2 separate regions of the Homo sapiens genome follow, and region 1 is linked to region 2. The links come from fine-mapping of genetic effects on gene expression. A gene starts in region 2. The other region holds a variant in brackets. All regions are shown on one strand. Distances are between the middles of the regions. Region 1 holds the start of RNU5F-1 (RNA, U5F small nuclear 1). Region 2 holds the start of ARMH1 (armadillo like helical domain containing 1).

Region 1 (2,905 bases), 47 kb after region 2:
GTCATCCACCACCAGGCTGGTGGTTTCTAAGCGTGGTCCTAGGCTGCCATGACCCAAGCCTCGCCTGTTGGAATGCAGAATCCAATGAGGTCTTTTCAACAAGATGTATGGAGCATGCATTGTGTACATGGAATGGTTTCAGGCTCTAGGTAAACAGAAGTGAGATGTGTCAGATATGTTCATTGGAGTTCACACACTAGTGAGGAGACCATTTAGTGGATAGTACTAGAATTCTATAGCAAGAATTCTATACGGTGCTACGGGTTCAGAGACATAGGACATCTACTCCTGAGTGAAGAGTGAAGGCAGAGGAGAGCAGGCCAGGGGCAGCTTCCTGAAAGTTGATTTCTCAGCTGAGCCTAGAAGAATGAGTAGCAATAGCCAGATAAAGAAGACTTCTCAGGCCGGGCGTGGTGGCTCACACCTGTAATCCCAGCACTTTCGGAGGCCAAGGCAGGTGGATCACTTGAGGTCAGGAGTTCAAGACCAGCCTGGCCAACATAGTGAAACCCTGTCTCTACTAAAAAATACAAAAATTAGCCAGGCGTGGTGGTGCGCACCTGTAATCCCAGCTACTCGGGAGGCTGAGGCAGGAGAATCCCTTGAACCCAGGAGGTGGAAGCTGCAGTGAGCCGAGATCGTACCACTGTACTCCAGCCTGGGTGACAGAGTGAAACTCCATCTCAAAACAAAACAAAACAAAAAAAGGGCAAAAGAAAGAGAAGGCACTGAGATTCTGCTCTCGGTGGGAAGTCTGATACCTCTAGCATACATACTTTAAGTTGGACCCCAGAAGACAGTACCCTCAAGGTCAAGGTGGGCCAAAAGTAAGCCGGCCCTCAGGTGGTCTTGTATGGATTATATAACTACCAGGTGGTCCAGAGAACCTCAAGTGTTGAATGTGGACAAAGGTAGTCCAGAATTGTTTGTGTCCCCAGGTACCTGATAAAAACAAAAGAAAACTATCTCTGGAAGAAAGTATCATCATCCTAACTCTTAAGTTTTTCCTACACTTAATTTTTCAAATATGAGACCAGTCCAAAGTATAAGATAATCATGCACACAAAGTCATCACTATAAATTGGAACTAGCACACTAGAAAGACTCACAAGACTTCAGCCAAATTATTAGATACAGACTGTCAAAAACTAGGTTTTCTTTTAAAAAAAAAAATCTTATAAACATTTAGCTTCCTAAATGTTTACAAGAAGCTAAAAAAACATGACAGTAGGCCGGGCACTACAAAAAGTACACAAAATTAGACAGGCTTATGAGGCTGAGGTGGGAGGATTGCTTGAGCATGGGAGATGGAGGTTGTAGTGAGCCGCGACCACACCACTCCGCTACAACCTGGGTGACATTTGTGGAGCTACCCCAACCTCCCAAAGCATGAAACACCCCACCCACACGTCTCTCTTTAGTAACA[G/A]AACATTCAGCCTTGCCTAGGCAAGACTTCAAAAAATTTAACCATAAACTCATAGTTGTTTTTCTCCACGGAAATCTTTAGTAAAAGGCGAAAGATTTATTCGTTATGAAGAGAAACCAGAGATCTGCCTGTTAGCCTTTTGCCTGGCTTCCCAGCTATTGACTGGTCTCCCTCTACTTACGGTGCCTTTGGACCTGCAGACAGAAGCTTTTCTTCCACTGTAGAAAAGTGTCCTAAACATGTTCTCACTGGGTAAAATCTCCTGACAAAGAAAAAAAGTTTAAATATTATTATTCAAACAGATAACCCTGGTAATAATTCTCGTATCTACAATGCATTCTGGGATGCAAATGAGCTGAGCGCCGGAACAAGAGTTCCTCTAAACCCTCTCTCTCTTACCAGTAAATGGAGAGAGGCACTTGACTACTGAGCTGGGGAGAGCACATGGCCAAGTCCTGTCTTCCATGTAGCCACATGTGTTCAGAGTAGCAGTGCCCGGTGCACAGTGACTCACACCTGTAATCCCTGCACTTAAGGAGGCAGAGGTAGGAGGATCGCTTGAGCCCAGGAGTTCAAGACCAGCCTGGACGACAGAGTAAGACCTTGTCTCAGAAAAAAAATAAAATTTAAATTTAAAAAAAAGTCCAGGCGTGGTGGCTCATGCCTGTAATCCCAGCACTTTGGGAGGCCGAGGCAGGAGTTCTCGGTCACTTTGGGAGCACTTTGGGAGGCCTGAGCACTTTGGGAGGCCTGAGGTCAGGAGTTCAAGACCAGCCTTGCCAACATGGTGAAACCCTGTCTCTACTAAATACAAAAATCAGCCGGGCGTGGTGGCAGACGCCTGTAATCCCAGCTTCCCAGGAGGCTGAGGCAGGAGTATCGCTTGAACCCGGGAGGCAGAGGTTGCAGTGAGCGATTGCACTCCAGCCTGAGTGATGACAGTGAAACTCCGTCTCAAAAAAACAAACAAACAAAAATACTAGCATTTACTGGCTGGGCCCACCGGGCCCAGTGGCTCATGCCTGCTATCCCAGCACTTTGGGAGGCCGAGGCGCGTGGATCACGAGGTCAGAAGTTCAAGACCAGCCTGGCCAAGATGGTGAAACCCCATCTCTACTAAAAATACAAAAAAAAAAAAAAAAAAAAATTAGCCGGGTGTGGTGGCGGGCGCCTGTAATCCCAGCCTACTCGGGAGGCTGAGGCAGGAGAATTGCTTGAACCCAGGAGGCGGAGGTTGCAGTGAGCCGAGATCGCGCCACTGCACTCCAGCCTGGGCGACAGAGTGAGGCTCTGTCTCAAAAAAAAAAAAAAGGTAGCATTTATGCTGGTGTGCCATCATCTTAGCATCTCCTTCTCCTCCTGCCCCCTCTAGCTCTGTGGTTCCTTTCTCTTCTTTACAAAAACATTCAATCCTTGCCGATTTTCTCTTGTGCTCCCACAGCCCAATCACTGACTCCTTCCACAGCACCTGTCACCATA
Region 2 (2,905 bases):
CAAGGCCCTTCTGCCAGAATTCCCAGAGAGACCAAACTTTCCACTCTCTGGACCCCGATCTACTCACACTGTCATGGATGCGGGCCTGCTGTCAATCCTAATTTTGTGGAGAATCCTACATGTCTTTCTTTAATGTAAGGAGAGAAACAATGCTGATCGTAAATGCCAATTACTGAACTCACTCCATGCCAGGCCCTTTACACAATCTCCAGATGGCCCCAACAGCCCTATGAGGAAGGTTACTATCCTTATCCCGGTTTTGCAGAGGAGGAAACTGAAGTTCAGAGAAGGTAGCTTACCAAAGGTAATCCAGCTCCTAAAGGAAGGAGTCAGGATTTCAGTCGAGTTCTACCCGACGGCAGAGACTGCACTGTTAACCACTGCCGAGAAGAGTGGAGAGGGACGGCTAAGGGTTCTGAGTCCCGGGCTTCTGCGAGGATCGGTGACCCCGCGAGCCTCCCCCTCCACGCCTTCGGGAAAATAATAAGTGATAGGCTAGATGTGGGAAGCCCAATCCCAAACAAAGGAATCAGGAGGGATCCAGCTTTCGGCAGCCTTCAGCTATGAGAAGTGATTAAAGGGCATGGACCTGAGCACCCCGGACAGGAAAGACAGAAAAAGAGGTCCCAAGCGAGCAGCTGACTCGGGCAGAGGCGGGGCTCGCCAGGGAGGAACACTCTGGGGCGGGACTTACGAGGGGCGGGGCTCTCTGAGCCTCTCTAAGTCTAGGACCTGCCAGACCCTATGAGGGGGCGGCCCGAGGGAGGGCGGGGCCGCATGAGGGGCGGGGCTACAGCTGCGCTCGCAACCCACAGGTTCATGAGGTCACCTCCCCGCGCCTGGACCCAACCCTCATTCCATACTCTGGCTCCAGCAGGGCTGATCCGGGATCTCGATGGTGTAGTCCAGCTCTGCCGAGGCCATGGTGAAGGCGCCGGCCCAGAGCACGGGTCTCCAGCCGGAACTCCCGCTTGCGCACCCGTGCCTCACCCGGGCGCCTCCTGGGCGCCGCCCAATCACCACACACCTCCCCCAACACGGCCCAATCCCTGCGCCGCGCTCTGTGACCTCCCGCCTTAGCAACCACCGAGTCTCTTCCAGAGCCTCTCGCCTCACCCCACTAGCTCGGCCCTAGCAACCATGCCCCGCCCCTATTACTGACCCGCAGCCATTGGCTAATTCGCTTGATCTGGATCAGGTATTGGTCAGCCGGGGCGCCGGTCAGGAAGAGTCCCCACCCTCTCATGTAGGTGAGAGGCGGCTGAAGAGTTGCTGTATTCTGGGAATGGGCAGGGTCACTCGTCCGAACAGAGTCCTATCCTACGCGGCGGAAGAGTGTGCCCTTTGACTTGCATCGTCTACCTACCTCTGCCATCCTCTACCAGCCGCAACTGCGAGGGCTGGAGGTATAAAACCGTACAAAACGGCCTAGGGGGCGCGTGCCGACCCAACCTCCACCCAGTGGGGTTGAGGCATATTCTGGATGGATGGATGGATGGATGGATGGATGGGTGGATGGGAAGCAGTCTTCAGTTGATGACTTTAGAGAATGCCCTGTTGATAGGGCCCACCGAGGAGCTGGGAGTGCAACTTTCTTGCATTTATCTATATTTACATACTATGTGCCAGCATATTTACATACTATGTGCCAGAGACTGGGTGGGCTAAATAAGGTTCCTTAGGCCCTAGTGAGAATCAAGCTTTTGGCCCTCCCTCTCCCATGTCTTAACGGGAGAGGGAGAGAAACCATGCATGAAGCAACTCTGATTCTGCGTGTGAGATAAATACTACAGAAGAGTAAGGATTTGAGGAGCTCAGAATCAGAGAAGGGGCATTTATGGCAGTGGGGTTGGCTCTTGAGCTGGGCCTTGAAAGACTTTTAGAGATAGGGAGGGGGAAAGACTCTTTGCATGCCAGGCGCGGTGGCTCAAACTCGTAATCCCAGCACTTTGGAAGGCCAAGACGGGAGAATGGCTTGAAGGAGTTCAAGACCAGCCTGGGCAACATAGTGAGACCTTCATCTCTACAAAATTAAAATTTTAAAAATTAGCCAGGCATGGTAGCGCATGCCTGAAGTCCCAGCTACTTGGAAAGCTGAGGTGGGAGGATCACTTGAGTCAGGAGGTCAAAGCTGCAGTAAGCCATGATTGTGCCACTGCACTCCAGCCTGGGTGACAGAGTGAGACCCTGTCTCAAAAAACAAAACAAAGAGCCCAGTGTGGTGTCTCACCCCTGTAATCCCAGCACTTTGGGAGGCTGAGGCGGGCGTATCACTTCAGGTCAGGAGTTCGAGACCAGCCTGGCCAACATGGCGAAACCCCATCTCTACTAAAAATACAAAAATTAGCCGGGCATGGTGGTGCACACCTGTAATCCCAGCTACTTGGGAGGCTGAGGCAGGAGAATGGCTTGAACCTGGGAGGTAGAGGTGGCAGTGAGCCGAGATTGCTCCACTGCACTCCAGCCTGGGTGACAGAGCGCGACTCTGTCTCAAAAAAAAAGAAACATTAGTGCAGGAACTGGATTGAGGATTGGGAGAAGGAGGGAGACCAGTTAGGAGGTTGTTTCAGTAGTGGGGAAGGATTATGGTGGCACAAAGCATGGAGTGGCAGCTGAAATGGAAAGGGCAGGATGAATTCCTTAGACACTTATAGCTAGAAAAAAATGGACTTGGTTACTAATTGGGTGTGGGGGAAGTAAGGGAAATGAAGGATGACTTCTAGATTCCTGGTTTGGGCAAACAGGAAGGAGAGGAAGCAGGGGTTTTTAGGAGAGGGTCAGTTCTGGGCACGGTGAGCTTGGGGTGCCAATGGAACATCCAAGTGGAGGTATCCAGAAGGCCATTGGATATGCCTAACTGGAGTTCGCCAGATAAGTCTAACTGGAAGTTGCAGTGTGGGAGTCT

What was found.
Region 1: its variant is fine-mapped to the expression of ARMH1 in whole blood (TOPMed, PIP above 0.99).

What each region holds. Positions count from the first base shown.
Region 1 is chr1:44,720,352-44,723,256 of GRCh38, forward strand. All of the region lies in intron 6 of ARMH1 (armadillo like helical domain containing 1), which reads left to right. RNU5F-1 (RNA, U5F small nuclear 1) reads right to left here and starts at 1,551; the gene lies at 1,434-1,551. It overlaps LOC105378690 (a long non-coding RNA gene), which reads right to left. Exons shown (of 5, transcript XR_007066059.1): 2 at 1,608-1,688. The variant G/A (reference allele first, on the strand shown) is at 1,427.
Region 2 is chr1:44,673,468-44,676,372 of GRCh38, forward strand. It overlaps ARMH1 (armadillo like helical domain containing 1), which reads left to right and starts at 1,247. Exons shown (of 12, transcript NM_001145636.2): 1 at 1,247-1,406. It overlaps TMEM53 (transmembrane protein 53), which reads right to left and starts at 1,014. Exons shown (of 3, transcript NM_024587.4): 1 at 864-1,014. The coding sequence starts at 924. RefSeq lists an enhancer at 458-959 and silencers at 727-866, 1,017-1,066, 1,137-1,186.